Linked DNA regions of Homo sapiens: regions 1, 2 and 3 are each linked to region 4. Evidence: fine-mapped expression QTL. A gene starts in region 4. Each other region holds a variant in brackets. All regions are shown on one strand. Distances are from middle to middle.

Region 1 (4,589 bases), 37 kb before region 4:
GGTGAAACCCTGTCTCTACTGAAAATACAAAAATTAGCCAGGCGTGGTGGCTTGCGCCTGTAATCCCAGCTACTTAGGAGGCGGAGGCAGGAGAATTGCTTGAATCCAGGAGGCAGAGGTTGCAGTGAGCTAAGATCTTGCCATTGCACTCCAGCCTAGGCAACAAGACTGAAACTTCCTCTCAAAACAAACAAACAAACAAACAAACAAATAATGAAGTTATAAATTTGGACTTACATTCTGGGTTAGGGACTTGACATCAAGCACATCAGATATGATTTGATAATTTCTGTCAGGAATGCAATAATAAAATAGCTCTAAACTCCGTGGTCATTATAAATAGTAAACTCATGCTCCAAGCACTATAAAATGGGCATGGGCGCACTGTCTGCATCCCACTGGTTTCCTGTTACCCCACCTGCTGCCTCTTGCTTGACCATGGGCTGTTGATGGAAACTGAGGACTAAACTTATAAGGCCCACCAAGCTTATCTTGCCTTGCTTGCTTTTAGCCGCTTGCTTCTAGCTGATTTTAAAATCCATATAGCTAAATAATATATATCTGCCAGTAGCTTCCTTATAGTTAACAACTCTAAGGCATTGCTCACCATGGTAACAGTTGTTTTTCAGGAAGTGGGGGTCAGTCCTTGTCCACTTCAAACCAGCTGAGACCACCAGCCCTTCAACTGGACCTGTGTGAATGTCCAGTTGATATGGACAGGAGACAGGGAAATACTGGGTAGAAGAGGGTGGTTCCCTGGCAAAGGCCCCACCCTAAAGCCTGGAAACCTGCAGCCTGGAATGAGAACAAGCATTCCTGTTTTCATGCCCAAATGTTGCCTTTTGGTCTGGAACGCCCCCTATCCTGTAGTCATATAAACCCTAAGCCCCAGGCTCTACAAGCAGATGAGCAGACAAACAGAAGAGCAGAAGAGCTGCAGAACGGCGTGGCAGAGAAGGAGAGTAAAGAAGGAGCATCTGAACATCAAGAGGAGTTTGGCTGGGGCAGTCAGGGAGGAGAGATAGGCCATTGGACAGCCAAACTCCAGGGAAAGGTCATTTTCCCACTCCATCCGCTTTCCGGCTCCCTGCTGACAGCCACCTCCACCACTCAATAAAACCCCCACATTCACCATCCTTCAAGTCTGTGTGTGATCTGATTCTCCCTGGACACTGGACAAGAATCCAGGTACCAAGACGGCACTGAGCTGTTTAACATTTAAGCCATCTGCGGATGGCAGAGCTAAAAGAGGACTGTAGCTCATCCACTGGGGCTTCAGGAGTTGCAGGCTCCTACCCCTAGACACCACTGGTGGGCCGGTGCCCAAAAGCGCTCACCCTGATTCCTGCACCTGCCTGCGTGCTCCCTCTCCCGTAAAGGGTTTGAGCACACACAGTGGCTGAACAGACGAGCCACACCCTTGTTGCATGTCCTGCAAGGAGGTTCAGGGAAACCTCCCGTTTCACAGTGGGTGACCTTTTGATGTTGGAGGGCCAAAAACTCCACCCTCAGATCACGCTAATGATCTCATTTTGTTAACGTGCATCCTGTTAAGAGCCATGAAGCTTGACTACACTTGTGCAGGTCACTCATTGCCTTGTTTTCCCTTACTCCAGTCACCTTTCCCCATGCCTCGGACCGCCTTGCTACTCTACCCCATAAATATCCATAAAGCCTCTTCTACGGGGAGGCAGACCTGAGAGGCATTCTCTAGCTGCTCACTTAGCTGCCTCAAGAATAAAATCTTTTCTCCACTGCCAAACTCATCATCTCAGTGATTGGTTTACTGTGTAATGGGCAGAATGTGCCTGGCCACTAACATGCTCACATCTACTTTCTCAATACACTAACTCTGAGGTAAGGAAGGCATATCTTAGTTCCCGAGTTCAACAGATGGGGAAACTGAAGTTCAGGAATACTTCAGCTTTGGAAGCACGGCAGAGACTTAGCAAACAGGTTTTCTTTCAGTGCTTAAGTCCTCACTTTCCAATCTCTGTAGCCCTGCTCGTGACACAGTGGACATTGTGCATTTGCTTGTCTCACATCTAAGGGAACACTGATTTACTTATTTATTTTGAGACAGGATCTCAGTCTGTCACCCAGGCTGGAGTGCAGTGGCACAATCATGGCTTGCTGCAGCATCAACCTCCTGGACTCAAGTGATCCTCCTGCCTCAGTCTCCCGAGTAGCTGGGACTATAGGTACATGCCACTATACCTGGCTAATTTTTTTTTTTTTTTTTTTTTTTGAGACGGAGTCTCACTCTGTCGCCCAGGCTGGAGTGCAGTGGCACCACGTTGGCTCACTGCAACCTCCGTCTCCTGGGTTCAAGCAATTCTCCGGCCTCAGCCTCCTGAGTAGCTGGGATTGCAGGTGCCCACCACCACACCTGGCTAATTTTTATATTTTTAGTAGAGATGGGGTTTCACCATGTTGGCCAGGT[T/C]GGTCTTGAACTCCTGACCTCAGGTGAGCCGCCCACCTCGGCCTCCAAAGTGCTAGGATTACAGGCGTTAGCCACCACGCCCGGACTACCTGCTTAATTTTTTGATTTTTTTTTTGTAAAGACAGTGTCTTACTTTGTTGCCCAGGCTCAAGTAATGCCCACTCCTTGGCCTCCAGAAGTGATGGGATTATAGGCGTGAGCCACCGTACCCGGCCTGGGATGCTACTCTAAATGCACATTCATTCTAGCTCCCAAACTACTTTTTTTTCGCTATTTCTAAATCAAAATGCTTTTCGACATTGCTATGTGGAAACTGTGGGTTTTATAAAGTTATAAAGAATAGTTTAATAAGAAATTACACCCAAGAAAAGTATAAAACACATTACAATATAAATGTGACCTGGCACTTAGAATAAACATTTGCTTTGCAATACTCTCATTTGTTTTTTTCCTAGAATTTAAATGAGACTTTTTTGGAACCAGATTTTTAAAATAAACAAATGAACAACTGTCCCTAAGAAACCTTAGCTGACACCTTTTTTGTTTCTGTCTTAAAGTTCCCAGCCAAGGTTTTCAAAATCTTTCCCCTGACCTCAGAACTGCTGGAAGTGGTGCAGTGCTGACTGACAGTTTGTTGACAAGAGAGGCAACACTTCACACTTCACTGGAAAGCATAAAAGCGTGCTCCAGGTCATTAACTGAGACTTTTAAGAGGAACTGCTTGCTGCATTATGATAGTGGGATTCAGGAACATTTCTTTGCAATTCGTACAGTTTTGTTGTTTTTTCACAAAATGGAATTCAAATGCACAGAATGCAATTAATAAAAATTCTTGATTCATGGCACACTATCATCATTGGCCCGTGAATGGCCTTATTTTACTTTATATCACATTTAGTAATGAACACCTGGTAAAACCAAGGCCCAACCAAGAACTAGAATATCACCACCATTTTACCTTGACCTAAGGGAAAGGGAAGGGCACCCACTCTATCTCTGCCCTCTGGCTCTCTCACATAGGTTACTCTTCTAAATCTGTTGTTTGTCATTCCTTTGCTTTTTAAAGATGAGTTTTACCAAATATGCTTGAACATCTAAATCATATGTAATTGGGTCTTCTCAGGTGATAAAAGTAGTATCACCCTGTATATAGTCTTCTCTAGCCTGTTCTTTTCACTCAACAGTGTTTCTGAGACATTCATGTGGTTGGTAAAGCTGTAGTTCCTTAATTTTCACCTCTGTGTTATAGTCCCTTGTGCGACTCTACTAAAATTTATATTTTTTCCTGCCAGTAGATATCCGAGTTGTTTCTATTTCTTTCTGTAAGACAAACTTTTTTGCTTAGAACAATCTTCTGTTTCATATTAGGTGCTAATGTTTCTCTTGGGTATATAACTAGATGAGGAGTTACTGGGTCTTCAGGCATGAACAACCTTATAAGGTAATGACAAATTATTTTCCAAAGTGGTTATATTAATTTACATTTCTACCAGGAATGTGATCACATTGATTCACATTCCCTTCAAACTCAATATTGTCACACAAAATTTTTATCAATAGGTGTAAAATGGTATCTCTGTGGTTTTGACTTCCATTTCCCTGATAATGAGGTTCAACAGTGCTTCATGATTTTTAGCTGTATGTATTTTTTCTTCTGTGAAATGTCTGTTTGAATCTTTTGCAGTTTTGCTAGCTTTTCCCTCTTTTTGTTTGTAGGAACCCTTATCTATTCTGCATGCTAATCCTTTGTGCTATAATAACTTCAGTTGGAATTTTTCTTCTATTTCTTTAAAATATTTTTTGATGACATGTTTTGGTGACTAATTTTAACATATCTGAATTTGTGAATATTGTTTCTTACGGTGAGCATATTTTTGTGTGTTATTTAGGAAATCCCTCCCTGTTCTAAGATGAGAACAATATTAGCTTATTTTTCTCTAAAAGTGAAAGTGTGCTTTTAACACGTAAACTCTTAATCCTTCTAGGTTTGATTTTTGTATATGGTGTGAAGTAAGATCTGATTTCATTTTTCCACATGGATAACCAATTTTTCAGCTCCATTTATTATTCAATCTTGCCTTTCTCCAGTTCTGTACTTCCAGCCTGTCTTAAAAATTCAAATATGCATGAGTCTGATTCCTGGCCC
Region 2 (4,589 bases), 63 kb before region 4:
TTTTAGTGAACTGAAAGACACTGGAACACTGCTTTTCTTAATAAAATAAAATCTTTAACCACCAGGGTTGACAGTAGGAGGAAATCTGATAGGGGTGGGGCTGTACTAGAAGTCTCCCTTGCCTGGTTTGAATGTTCTGGCCTTGTCCCTGGTTGGGACAGCGTATTAAGCTGGGGCAGCTACATCTTCCCCTGGGCTGACTTCTGCCAAAGCCTAGAACGTTGTCACTAAAGTTTAATTCCTTTTTGTATTTAAAGGCTCCTGGAGTCCTAGAGATGCAACTCTGCAAACCTTAGCAGTTTGTTTCTCCTAAGTTGTAGGGTCTTTGCTTAGGGTTGATTTATTTAATCCATCAGGTTCTGGTGATTTATTTGATTTTCTGTGCCAAATGAGTGTCTCGAGACAAAAAAGTGGTCTCTAGACTAAGTGAACAACACCAAGGTGACCTGTTCCCACTTTGGAGAAGACACAGCTTAATGGTTAAGAGTGTAGACTTTGATACTTGATGCCCTCGGGCTCAAATTTTGGCTCTGCAATTACGAACAGCGTGACCTTGAGTAAATTATTGAATAGGTTGGAGCTGTGTTTCCTACTGTGTAAAATGGGGTTGATGATGCCATAAGTCTGCCCCATAGCGGCATGTGTACATTAAGTGAGATCACGTGCACAGTAAGCACTCAGGAAAGACTCACTGTTTTTTCCAGCTAGGTGGAATTTCTCTGGGGAGCTATCAGATTTTTTTCCTAGAGACCTGCTGGGTGGCCCACACTTTGGAGCCCTTCCAGGTGGGGGTAGCAGAAACATCATAGGGGGGCATCATGGGTTTTCCCTCCCAGCTCTATTCCTTCTGCCTCTCGGTGCTTCAGGCCAACTGTTACTAGTTGCAGAGAGACGGCCAAGGCAACAGCAGGCTTGGAAGGTGCAAGCCTGGACTGGTCGTTCACTGAGTGGAAGGTGTTTGGAATGCAGAGGGGCATGAATGAGCCACCACTCTTTAGTTGGGGTTTTCATTAAGGACATGTTGCTGTTTGATGCCACTGGGCACAGGACTTTCAGAGCAGGGGATGGGCATAGGGGAGGAGTCCCCACTTCTGGCCATTCACCCTGGTCTTTGAACATAACCTGGCTCTGAGAAAGTGGCTCGACAGTACAGGCCCCCAAGCCCAGGATTTGGGAGACCTAATCTGGGCTCAGCCAGGCTTCTGTTAAGTCATTGATCTAAGGAGCTGGCAAATCCCTTAGGAGAGTATCTGGAATTGATGGCCCAGGCAAATCCAGGCTCTGCCTCTCAGTTTTGCATATACCTTATCGAATTTAATCCTTGTAACTATTCTGAGTTGCACAGTTTAGAGAGGAGGAAAGTCCCCATGGAGTTTTAAATCTGGAAGAACTTTGAGGTCTTCTGCTTTACCCTCTTGTTATGCAGATGAAAAAAGGAAAGCCCAGCAAGGGTGAGGTCACTCAGCTAATTAGGAGCAGAGCTAGAGCCAGATCTGGAACCTTGTTCTTTTAGCCGTGCACACTGTAGCTAATGCAGGCGGACCCTGTGCTCTCTTGAAAGGCAACTGCACTGCAGGCCCCATGTGTAGATTTAGGCTGCTTTGTGCCTCAACCCACATCCCCATCACCAGTGCAGCTTCAGGAATGGTCCTTGGTGGGGCAGAGGGGATAAAACCAGCCTGACTGACAGCTCCAGCTTTCAGCTACCCGAAGGAGTCTCTTCGAGTCCTTGCCAAGACCCAAACTGGGAATCTCAGACTTCGGACAAGAATTCTCCAACTGTGGGGATGAGTGCACCTAGGCTAAGCCAAGCACTCCTTGGCCTGTCTTGCGTTACCCAGAATTCCTGAAAGTGCTGGGACTTGGCTAGGTGGAATTTGAAAGTCTGACCTCTGGTTCTAACCTGTTAAAATAGTTGAGCACAGACTGTTTTCCCAGCACTGGGCTGCCTGTGTACCACCTGAAGTCGGGGGTAGAGGCCTTTGCACAGTGTCTGGCAGGTGCTCCATAGGAAGGGAGGGGAAACTCGAAGCAGGGGCAGGTCCCAAGGAAGACGGGGTGGCATTTTCACAAGAAAATCCCCCAGAAAGGGCGGCCGCCCCATGCTCTCCCCCATGGCATTGTGCCAGGCTGGCTATGCTGTGGCTTCCCTTTGGGTTCCCCTGGGTGGAAGGGTGCTCACTGAGGTGCCTTTTGGGTGACGTTGCCCATGCAAACACATTTCCCCAGAAACACATCTGCTCAACTGCACTAAAAATGGCATCTTGATTGACTTATTTAGCGTCCATTAAGTTCATACTCAAATTAACATGCAGAATGGGAGACAGGAGGGGTTACAACACCCGTAAGGGGTTAGAGAGGCATTTAAAATGGATGAAGATCTGTGTACCAGATGTTTGTTTCACCTAAATAAAACAAAATAATAAAACAGAACAAAACACTGCACCAAAAACGTTCTTTCTGGGAGCAGGGAGAGAAAGTTCCATGTCTCTCATCCCTTTTTCGGGCTTCACCCCAAGGTCACAGGTCCCTGCTGGTGTAGTGGTGGCCTGTAGATAGGCAGGGAGCCCCATTTCATTGTTGGAGTTACACAGGAGTGACTGTGGCAATCAGCACACAACAGACTCTTCAAAATCGTGAACAACTGGGGGGACCTTGCACATGG[AG/A]GGCCCACTGTTGAAAGAGCTGTGCTGCGGCTGGCCTCAATGCTGGGGAGCATGTGGCTCTCCTTGGGTCAGCAGAGCAAAGGTAGGGGCATCCAAGAGGGACCCTGGGAGCTCCTTGCATTGCTTGGACCATGAGCCAGCTGGGGCCTGGCTGCTTCCCAGCAAGAGGGCGCCCACGTTCCCTTTTCTGTGGGGCTGGAGGATTCCTCTTCACCCTCCCCATCCCTCTTCCATGCAGGAAGCATTGCAACATCTAGACAATGTCTGTATTAACTCCTCTGCCTGGAGCCAAGTAGCCTGTGTGGTCCTGCAGCAGAATACAGGCCCGTGCTGTCGGCCCAGCTCACCCCCACCCAGGAATGATTATGGAATGGGGGATGCACACTTGCTTCACCCTTCTTGCTCTCCTTTAGCTCCGTGAGTGCCCTACCCCCAAAGCATATTGCTTTACCGGTGCTGTGTGAGATTATAGAATTCTCAAACCTGGTTCATGACAGGGGGAAGCCCAGAATGGGCCTGCCTGGCAGGACACCGGGATGAGGTGTCTGGTTCCTCCCTGGGAGCTGCCCATGTGACGTGGATCAGAGGCCCTTCTGGAACCACCACCTCTAGGACAGTAAACTGTCGGTGACTGTAAGTAGCACCCGTAATGCCACCATCAGCCCCAGAGGCACAAAGCCGAGACAGAGCAGGAGTCTTGAAGGGGAGAACATTCATGGAGGAGGACTTCTGCGGGAAAAGGGGCTAGATCTGCCTTTGCCACTGCTCCCAAGACAGTCCTTCTCATTTTTCCCTGGTAATAGCTGCTCCCAGCCCAGCCCTCCCCCACATGGCACCTCAGCTCTCAGTCCGGCACTGCCTGCTTTACTGCTTTCCAAGTCCCATGGAAATGAATCATTCTGCTGGCTTGCTGGAGTGCACTTTCCTATCTTTCAGAAGCCAGTGGCCTTCGAGAATAACTGGCATTTCTCAGTCTGTGATAGAGATGTCCCTCTGTTCACGCCAAGGTGAGCTCTTCCAAGCATGTGCACGCAGCTCATGTGCCTGGGGAAATAAGCACTTTGCTACCTGGCAAAGCAGTGGGGAGGAGAATACTTTGCCTGGAAACCTGACCAGACCCTTAATGAATGTTATGTGTAAGCTTAGGCTGGGCAGTGTAGTTGGGAGAACAGGGAATGAGTTTCAGTTCCACAATTGTGCTCTGCTCCCTCACATCTCAGGGCCTTTTTACCTACAACCCTGCTGTCTAGGATTCAGCCATTCATTCCTTCAACACACGCTTGTTGAGTACCTCTTATACTGCAGGCTTACACTCTCATCTGCAAGGTGCTGAGTGAACAAGACACAGGCAATGGGGGTGCAGACAATGAAGGTGAGGTGTGGCTTGTCCCTTCTTCATCTTTTACTGGTGTCCTGTCTGTGGCGGTCACTATGAGGGCATCTGAACAGTGGTCTTGAGGCAGGAATTTTTACGCCTTAGCTCAGCGAGATCTGGGTTCTTGTCTCACGACCAGGAAAAATTAGGCACATGGACATCAAAGAGTGAGTGGAATAGAATTTATGAAGCAAAAAGGGAAGCTCTCAGCAAAAAGAGGGGTCCTGAAAGCAGGTTACTGGCTGGCCCCCTTCATAGTTGAATACAAGGGGCTTCTATAATCCACTGATGGGGCTGGTTTCCCTATTTGTATGTGGCGTGAATTCCTGGCACCCCCATCCTTCTAGTGCACATGCGGGCCCTTAGTCTGAGCCACTCCACATTGATTTATTTCCCTTATTGCGCGTGTGTTAAGGGACAGAAGTTTTCACTGCGAGCATGTTTAGGCAAGCCACCTGTGCACAATGACCTTGGCCGGTGGGAAGTTCTCTGGGGGCCCTCCCCTATCTGCCTAGGAGAGTGCTCTGTCTCCTGCCTCTGTCAGTCTC
Region 3 (4,589 bases), 23 kb after region 4:
TATCTGGCCTCTTTTGGTGGCAGCCGGGAAACTAGATCTCACATCTTGTGTTTTATTTAAGTCTAGAAGTGGTGAGAGATGCCAGAATCTCAAGCCTGTGGCTTTTCTGCCTAGCTGCCCAGCAGCAGCAAGGGTATGGTCCCAGCCCTCCCTGGCAAGATGCTGGCTGGCCCCAGGCAGAGTAAGTTGGTGCTATGGAGGCAACTGAGTCAGAGCTGGCAGCCGAGGGTCTATGGGATGCCATGTGAGCAGGAGCTTGGGAGTCAGACCTACGTTTGAATCTCCGTGTGAACTTGGATCGATTTCTTAACTTCCCTGGAGGCTCATCTAGAATGTGGGAGTAGTGATAACCACCTCCAAGTGTTTCTCATATTAGAAAGGGATAATGTACATAATGCAACCAGCAGAATCTTTGGCATCTAATAAGTGCTCAAAACATGTAACTCCCCTTCGTCCTACCCCTGCCATGAAGCACAACTGAGACAGTATTGGGGGTTGAGGGTGGGCAGACCTGGCTTAATTCCCCTTCTCTCCTTGTCCCACCTGGCCCATTTCCTGGCCTTGGGCAGCCCAAGGGCACTGGGCCCTGTGTTACAGGATGAAGGGGAGAAAGACGCTTTGCACCCCCTTCCTAAGGTCGTCAGTCCTGAGGCTGCACCTTCCCTCTGTGCCCTTGATTTGAAAAGATACTGGGTTTAAAGAGGGATCGCAAACAAAGATGGGTGCTCCAAGCAGGCATATAAGCTGCTGTCCCCTTGAAATAATATTCGTCAATTTTTTGTCTAATATTTACTTTGGCTAGGGGCAAAGCTGGTCCAGCAGGACAAAGGCATCTTTCCCCAATATGTCAGGGGTTGGGCATGGAGACCCAAGGCCACTGATGGCAGATTTCCAATTTATTTAAGGGATGTGTCTGCTGTCTTCTGGCATGCTACCATGCCACCTGTTCACCTGGTTGTTTCTCATGTGTCTAGAGCCCCACAAAGGGTGACTAGGTCAGCCAGAGCTCTTGCTAGGCTTCCCTTTAATTCAGGATTACTTTTACTCTTTGGTCACATAAGAATATTCATTTCCTGATTTGCCTGTCTTATACGTTTAAGTGCTCGTGTATTTCATAACACCACTATAGGATCTTGCATTTGAATACTTACCAGGGACTAAAATAAATTCACACTGCTATTTTGCTGATGAAGTGTCCTATTGTGTAAGTGAAGTTTTTAATTTTGTAGGTTTAGATGAGTAAGTTAAAATTTTCCTTTCTGGTTCTTAATTTGTTTTCTAATTTGGGGTAAAATGAAGTTAGGTGGGGGCAGGGGAGAAATTTTCAAAAGGAGCTCTTCATATCAGTAATGCATATTTTATACATGCCCCAACTCCAAGACGCTTCTCCTCAGAGCCGTTTCAAGGGCAGAGAAGATTCCTGATCGCTAGATTGCCCCTGTTCCCTTTGAGTTAATCCTATGGCCTCCACAAGCATGTAGAAAATTCTGGAGGAGTGGTACTCCTTATGCTTTCACGAATTTTATTTGGCCTCCCCATTCTGGCTCACTTCTTGTGAATGCAGATTCAGTTGGCCCCAATTTCTTTCTAATGGGCAGGAATCAAAGGCGTAGAATGTTGTTGAAAGGTTTTGTACTATTGTGCAAAGTAGTACTGTACAAATTATCTTCTGCCTCTTTCTCATAAGACCTTTTGAGCAAAGCCCAATTCTAGAATTCTGGAATTCTACTGCTAGAACTTTCCTTTGGCTAAATTTTGATTGTTACTAAAAAATCAGTATGCCGGAGGACCACATTTTATTTATTTTTTTGAGACAGGTTCTCACTCCTGTTGCCCAGACTGGAGTGCAGTGGCACGATCACTGCTTACTGTAGCCTCAACCTCCTGGGCTCAGGTGATTCTCCCACCTCAGCCTCCTGAGTAGCTGGGTCTACAGGTGTGCACCACCACGCCCAGCTAATTTTTTGTATTTTTAGTAGAGACGGGGTTTTGCCATTTTGCCCAGGCTGGTCTTGAACTCCTGGAGTCAAGCAATCCACCTGCCTCTGCCTCCCAAAGTGCTGGGATTACAGGCGTGAGCCACCGCAGCTGGCCAGGACTGCATTTTAATTGTCCTAAGTCATTTGTGTCTTAATTTGAATGGCAGACAGCTTGTGTCAGTGGCTGCTGTGAGGACAGCCCTGGAATGGAGGTGAGGAGAGCCTGGAGTTAGGTAGCTCAGGACTTAGGGAGAACTTCAACTTTGGTAGGAGCCATCCCGGACCTGCCTACAGCTAGTAACATTTTGAACCTGAAAGCCTCCTCCTCCTTGCAGGTGTAAGCTGTTCCTTAGCCTTTAACTTTCAAATTAGAAATGTTTATTTAGAGTAGCAATGGAAAATAGAAGATAAGTTAGCAAAGCCAGCAGAAGTTGGAGAACTCATAAACAATAAAATATCAGAAAAGTGTTACCCAAAATGCAACATTGAAAAAAGGTAACATTAAAAAAAATCTCGAGAGCCAAGAATAAAGGTGCCTCAAGGGAAGTAACACATACCGTGATTTTTCTTGCACTCTCTTTTTCTTTAGCCCTGTGATACTGGTCTATCTTTTATGAAGGTCCTCTTTTATGAAATTCAATAATGGTAACTAATGTTAGGGTGCCTCCTGAGGCAACATGAGATTATATGGTAGGTAAACAGTAGGCCGTTGCTGACTCAAAGGAAAGGATCACTTAGGAACACCATTAGCCCAGTGCCAGTGGTCCCTTTTAGTCAGAATCCTCAATCTCTGTGGGGATCACCCTTTGGCCTGGACTTTATTAGCTGCCAGATTAAAGGCACGAGAATTGAGCCTCATTTTTTCCCATTTCTATTCTTAGATAATCCATTCATTCTTTTTCAATTTACCAGGACCAGTCCCAGAAA[G/A]TGTTGAGAACTGAGTGTGAGCAATAATCACTGATATTATATAGTTCCTTGTAGTTTGCAAAGCAGCTTTACATACATTATTGCATTTAGTCCTCCCAATAAGCCTGCAAAACAGGCATTATATTATTATTATCATCACAGTTTCACAACTGCAGAAACAAAGCTTAAAGAGATGACAGGACTTGCCTAAGTTCACGGAGAGAGGGAATGGCTCTCAGCTCAGGTGTTTTGATCCTAAGTCCTGTTGCTCCTCAGTTCACATTGAATCTGAGGAGCTGCCATTTGTCCACCATGCTCCTCTCACTCTTATTAACAACAACAATGGTAATAGTGGCCAATGTTTGAGGGGTATTCACATGATGCCAATTACATCCCATTTAATCCTCACACCAATTGTATGATACAGGCTTAATAACTGATCTTATTTTACAGTTGAGTAAACTGAGGCTCAGAGAGGGTAGGTAAGTCTCAGAGAGGTGGGGTATGTCGACCAAGGGTCATAGCTAGGAGGTGGTGAGATAACATTTAAATCTAGACCTGTTTGGTGTCCGTGCTCTTAAACACGCGACTCTATGACCTTGCTGTCTCTTTGGTTTCTCTTCCAAGGTTTCTGGCTTAGTCTAAATGTTTGATTCAACACAGCAGAAGCACACAGGCCGCTTTCAAGGGCAAAGAATCAAACTACAGGCTGTGGGGAGGACATAGAGAATGAACAATGGGTTCTCCAGGACTTGTAAGAGTGGGAAGCACCACTGACCTGCAGATGAGGATTGACGGAACAAAACAAACAGTAATGATGGGGTGCAGACATGCTACCCCAAAATATGGTACCTCGGCATATTGAACAGTGTAAGCTGAAGGAATTGGAAAAAAAACACATAAGCAGGAAGGTCTCTGTGACCTTTGTCCAGGCTTCTTTCCTGAGGCAGTTCCTAAAACCTGGAAGGCCTCTCTGACTTTCCGTTGCAGCAGGTCTTCAGGTGCTCATGTGAGAAGTGCCCTCCCCACATCTGGAGGAAAAGAGCATCCTTACCTCTGAGGACATAGGACACAGAGAAAAATCTGAACAAACAGGCCTGCCTAAGTTCCCCCGGCTTATTACCATTACATCATACTCTTTTCCCTCTCATATTTCTCCATGACTGTCCACTCTTCATGAAACCTACTATAAAAAACAGGTTTCACTGTTTCTTCAGGTCTTCATTTCCTTATGAAGGCTCCCGTACCCATAAAACTTACATTTAAATAAATTTATATATTTTTTTCTCTTGTTCATCTATCTTTTATTAGAGGGGCCTCAGCCATGAGCCTAGGATGGGTGAGGAAAATATATTTTTAGTCACTACGATAACAGATGCATTAGTCAGAAGGGACATGGAGCCTACTGGGGGACTGGGAAAAAAGCTGGATGGATTCACCCACATTCAGGCATCGGGGACTTCATACAGATCCTCTGGCCTGAATCATTTGCATTTCATTGCAGGATGGCAGCGCTTAACACCAAGGCATCCCTTACTAACTAACAATGACCTATCATAAGGCACGTGGAGGGCTCAGGGTCGCCAACTGGGTACGGGAAGCTCCTGGAAACACCCTATGAAGGCAGCAGCCTGCTCCAGACAGGGAACACAGACTGAGAGTATCAGGACTCTCTCGTTGGCTACAAATGCTTCTGCAGTAAGT
Region 4 (4,589 bases):
CCCAAAGATTAACCCCAGAAGCAGCCGACCTCTGAAATCTTTTCAGAACAATCTCAAACCGTACCCTCCAACCTAGCATATATTCCAACTAACCCCCAATTACTTTTAAGTTCTCATACAGGGTTATGCTGCTTCAACATTTCCTTCCACTGAACATAAGATTCCTTCTGCCTAGAAAGCCACTCCCCAAGTGAACCAGTACCCATCCTTCAAGTGTTCTCTCAGCTATGAAGTCCTCCCTAGTTCCTCCAAGCAAATGCTCTCTCCCTCATTTCTTCTACTATTCTTTGCATACACCTTTATCACAGTTTATTACATGGCATTTTTGTATTTTGTATGTCCTTCATCCTTAATAGATCATGAGAAAAAGACCATGTTTTATTCATGTGGTATGCTAGTGTTTAGTACAGATCTGGTATAAAATAGTCAAATATTTACCACACCATTAACAATGTGTAGTCTTTTCATAAAAGGCTCTCCTGTGTAATAACAAGCTGTTCAAACTGAAAGTATTTCTGTAAGATGCTTAAAAAGGGATATTTTTCAAAATACATCAAAACACGAATGAACTTATCACTAGTGCTTGAAATATTAAGGAAAAAGCTAAGTCTACAGTTGTTTAAAAACTTGACAAAAAATATAAGCACAGATATAAACAACTGCCTCTTCATTTAAGTGGAAATCTAAATTATTAGTTATACATTTAATTATAATCCTCAATGAGACTAAATCTAGATATAAGACTTTCTTAACGTTCATATTTGATTAGCCTCGTTAATGAGATTTTCCTCTTGCAATTTTTAAATGCTTTAATCATGGTTTTCTTTATACTTAAATCTGGACTTAGGTTTAAAAAAATCAAGTATATTTATTTATGCGTCTTTCAAGTAGTCATTTGTGTGAAGTCAGCACTACTTCAGTTTTCAGAAAACACACAAAATGTTCAGTGAATGGTGAAATTGCCTAACCCCTTGCGCGGTTACAATGGTCCAAGTAGGAAATCACATTAGGTACCCATCAGAGAAACTGAGTTTCTACGCTGCTTTTAAAAACATCCTCGGTAGGTTATTTAGAACAGGAAATTGAAAGTTCTTATTCTTCTTCACCACTCTATCACTAAGGAAAAGGGCGAAAAAGCTATGGATGTAAATGCTGCTGTCTATAAACACAACTTGCCTGCAGAAATATGTAGTGGGCCGCGAAGTTTGAAGGAAGCCCGCAGTGCCTGGTATATTCACCAACTCCTCCAAGTAACTGATCATTGCCAAGGTCGAATTAATAAGCGTTCTTTGATGTTAATGATTGTGAGTGTTCTCAGGAAAGGACTAAAAGCTGACTTTCTAAACAGGATGTTGTTTGGAAATACCCCAAACAAACTCGATGTCCATTCCTAACGTGTTATTAAGTGAACCGATCTGACTCGATGCGTTTTGTTAAAAGGACTTTCTTTAGTTTCCCTGGCCCACAGTTTATTTTTTTACTATTTTTAACTCGGAGCCCATCTTAAAAACAAATTAAGAACGGAATGCTCGCCAAATCACGTCTACAAGACAAAATCGGCTTCCCAGGGAGCTAGACCTCGAGTGGGCACCGGCAGGGACGTAACCGCTGAGCCTCTCCGCAGAGCGCGACGCCGGCCGCCGGGTTTCGGTTAGACCGCAGCAGGAAGTTTTCCCTTCCTCTGCGGGAGGCAGTGGAGCCAAGGGGAAATTTGAACTCCCACTCCACGGGGACACCCAGAGGGGAGCTCCGGTGTGGGAGGGTGGCTCCCCTGGGAGCCAGGCGGCCGAGGAGCTCGTGATTCGACGCCCGCCGCGGCGTCTCCGCCCCGCGCGGCCCAGGCCGCGGCCTCCCTGCCCTCCCTGCCGTCCACTCCCAGTCCCGGGGCGGCGGCCTCAAAGCCCGCGCGGCAGGGCTGCGTCCCGGCTCGCAGGTCCCCGTCTCCCCGCCTAGGGCGCCGCGCCGAGCGGCAGGCGGGCCTGGCCGGCGCGGGCTGCACTCACCCACTCGAGGACCTTGATGAAGCCGAGTGGCTCCTTGAGCGGGTTGAGGTTGATCTGGAAGCCGGACATCCTCTGAGGAAAGGAGGGAGAGAGAGTCAGGACGACGGGGCGGAGGAGGGGACCGACGAGACCAGAGCAGCCCGGTGGCGAGGAAGGGCAGGCGGGGCTGGCGCGCTGGCCGGGCTCGGAGGCGGGCCCGGGCGGCCGTGGGGCGGGGCGGGGCGGAGCGGCGGCGGTTGAGCTGCTGGCTGAGACTCTGGGGCGGAAACGGAGTGGGGCGGCTGGGGAGGCGAGGGGCGGGCCGGGGCGGAGACCGGGAGGCTTCTCCTCAGGCCGCACCTGGCCGAGTCGACTGATCCGCTGGCGAACCAAGTAGATGTTGGGCGCCATACTGCGTGCGCCGCGCCCCCTTCCCTGCGGTTCAGCCCCTGGCACTCGGTCTTCCCCTGCGCACGCGTGTACGCGTGCGCTCGTTGGGCCCGCGCCGCGCTTCCGGACCCGCGCGACTGCGAAGAGCCCTGACCCGGGGGCGCCCACGCCCGCTCCTGCGCAGCTTGGGGGCGCTGGCCTCAGAGACACCCTCACTTGACCCCGAGCTCACCACAGCTGAGCTCACTACACCGAAGCTGACCTCTCCTTCCCTTAACAGATCTCAACTTTTTTATGAATTTATAATGTATTGGCACAGATGAAGTTGTGTTTCAAGGCATGTGTTAGGGGCCTTTGATTAAAATTGCAAAACAACAGACTTCTGGCTACCGTGCTGTGGGGTGCCTCGAAAGTGTGAATCACCAAATATTCGTATGGAAATTAGGTTTATTTTCAAAGTTACCATCGCAGCCATGGTTGAAAAATGAAGTAAGTTTATACCTAAAAGGAAAGGCGTGGCCGGACAGGCCCTCGGTGACCTACACTTTCACCTCTTCTACGCTGTCGGTCGACAGTCCTCTTTTTAAGGCATCGTTGGTATCTTTCTTCAAGAAGCTGACCCCTTTAAGATTCGGCTTAGGTGATACTTTCCTCTTGGCACGCAGTTACGGGAGCCCCAAGGTAGTGTGATCTCCTTCCTGGCTTCTTCAGTACCTGGAAAGTTCCTGGACAGCTGGAATGTGGTCATATTCGTGTATATGAAAAACCAGCTTCCAAGGACTTACCTGAATTTCAAGCACGAATATGATTTGCAGGCTACTTGCCACTGAGGTTATTCCGTCAGGGTTGACAACTGTTATTGAACGTCCTTGTAGTAAGCGAACCCTTTCTCTTTCGAGACCTATCTCCTTGTTTGCTGTCCAGAGAGTGCAAAAAATACATTTCATTTTCTATGCAGACAGAGACAATCTTTATGTTTATCTTGGCTCCCGTTCCTCAGTCCCCAGCACAGTCAGTGCTCAATGAGCACCTAATGGCATATCTCATTTTGAAATAACATTAAGAACTGGGCGCGGTGGCTCACGCCTGTAATCCCAGCACTTTGGGAGGCCGAGGCCGGCGGATCGTGAGGTCAGGAGTTCAAGACCAACCTGGCTAACATGGTGAAACCCCGTCTCTTATAAAGATACCAAAAAAATTAGCCTGACGTGGTAGCACGCGCCTGTCATCCCAGCTACTCAGGAGGCTGAGGCAGGAGAATCGCTTGAACCGGGAGGTGGGGGGGTTGCAGCGGGTTCCTAATGGATGGTTGCAGATTTCTCCCACTAAGCAACAAAGCATCATAGATACCCCTTAGGGCTAGGTGAGTGGAAGGTGACCATACACTGCTACCTGGTGCGTCTGAGACCACGATGAGCGGTGCTCCAGGTCTTCCAGCTTCCTCTCTCTCCTTTTTTTTCTACTTTGTTTCTGTATCTTCCTCTCAGTACTTCTCTTTTTGTTCTCTTTAGCCCGTTTTTCTAAGCTTTTACTCTCATTCTGTTGCGGTCTTCTGGGTAGGCACCTGGGGACGGAGTAGTGAATAGTAAGACTATTTAGCTTGAGCTTCATATTCACGAATATTCAAATTAGACTCTTAATGTTATTATTATTATTTTTTTTTTTTGAGACAGAGTCTTGCCCCGTCACCCAGGCTGGAGTGCAATGGCGTGATCTCAGCTCACTGCAACCTCTGCACCCCCGGGTTCAAGCGATTCTCCTGCCTCAGCCTCCCGAGTAGCTGGGATTACAGGCACGTACCACCACGTCCGGCTAATTTTTTTGTATCTTTATTAGAGACGGGGTTTCACCATGTTGGCCAGGTTGGTCTTGAACTCCTGACCTCATGATCCGCCACCTCGGCCTCCCAAAGTGCTGGGATTACAGGCGTGAGCCACCGCGCCCAGCTCTTAATGTTATTTCAAAATGAGATATGCCTTGACAGATTAGAGATATGTTCACATGCAGCTTTATTAATTAAAGATCTAAAACATACCATGACTTAGTAAACCAATATTGGCATCTCTTCTTCTTTTTGTTTATTGAAGGCCTTAGAAATTGGAATTGGCCAGGCCCTTTCTCAACTTCCGCGCTAAACTTTCTGTTGCTTCTGTCTGCCTCTCCTCACTTTCTCTCCTGCTTCTTGTTCAAGCCCACCAGTGGAAGGCATGGTGGTTA

Direction of the effects. Alleles are on the strand shown, and positions count from the first base shown. SD is a standard deviation of normalised expression in the study named. Not every link is listed here.
With allele A in place of G in region 3, the expression in left ventricle of the gene that starts at base 2,176 in region 4 is lower (small effect, 0.37 SD a copy in GTEx).

Evidence for each region. PIP is the estimated chance that this variant, and not a neighbour inherited with it, causes the effect. A credible set is the group of variants that fine-mapping cannot tell apart.
Region 1: its variant is the best candidate, but not a certain one, in a credible set for the expression of SYPL1 in whole blood (INTERVAL, PIP 0.65).
Region 2: its variant is the best candidate, but not a certain one, in a credible set for the expression of SYPL1 in whole blood (TOPMed, PIP 0.56).
Region 3: its variant is the best candidate, but not a certain one, in a credible set for the expression of SYPL1 in left ventricle (GTEx, PIP 0.85).

Annotation. Positions count from the first base shown.
Region 1 is chr7:106,073,046-106,077,634 of GRCh38, forward strand. No RefSeq gene overlaps it. Among named protein-coding and RNA genes, the nearest start is that of SYPL1, 37 kb to the right of the region's middle. The variant T/C (reference allele first, on the strand shown) is at 2,444.
Region 2 is chr7:106,047,374-106,051,962 of GRCh38, forward strand. No RefSeq gene overlaps it. Among named protein-coding and RNA genes, the nearest start is that of SYPL1, 63 kb to the right of the region's middle. The variant AG/A (reference allele first, on the strand shown) is at 2,666.
Region 3 is chr7:106,133,518-106,138,106 of GRCh38, forward strand. No RefSeq gene overlaps it. Among named protein-coding and RNA genes, the nearest start is that of SYPL1, 24 kb to the left of the region's middle. The variant G/A (reference allele first, on the strand shown) is at 2,907.
Region 4 is chr7:106,110,137-106,114,725 of GRCh38, forward strand. It overlaps SYPL1 (synaptophysin like 1), which reads right to left and starts at 2,176. Exons shown (of 5, transcript NM_182715.4): 1 at 2,004-2,176. The coding sequence starts at 2,072. RefSeq lists an enhancer at 1,406-2,238 and silencers at 1,694-1,943, 1,954-2,443, 2,524-2,583.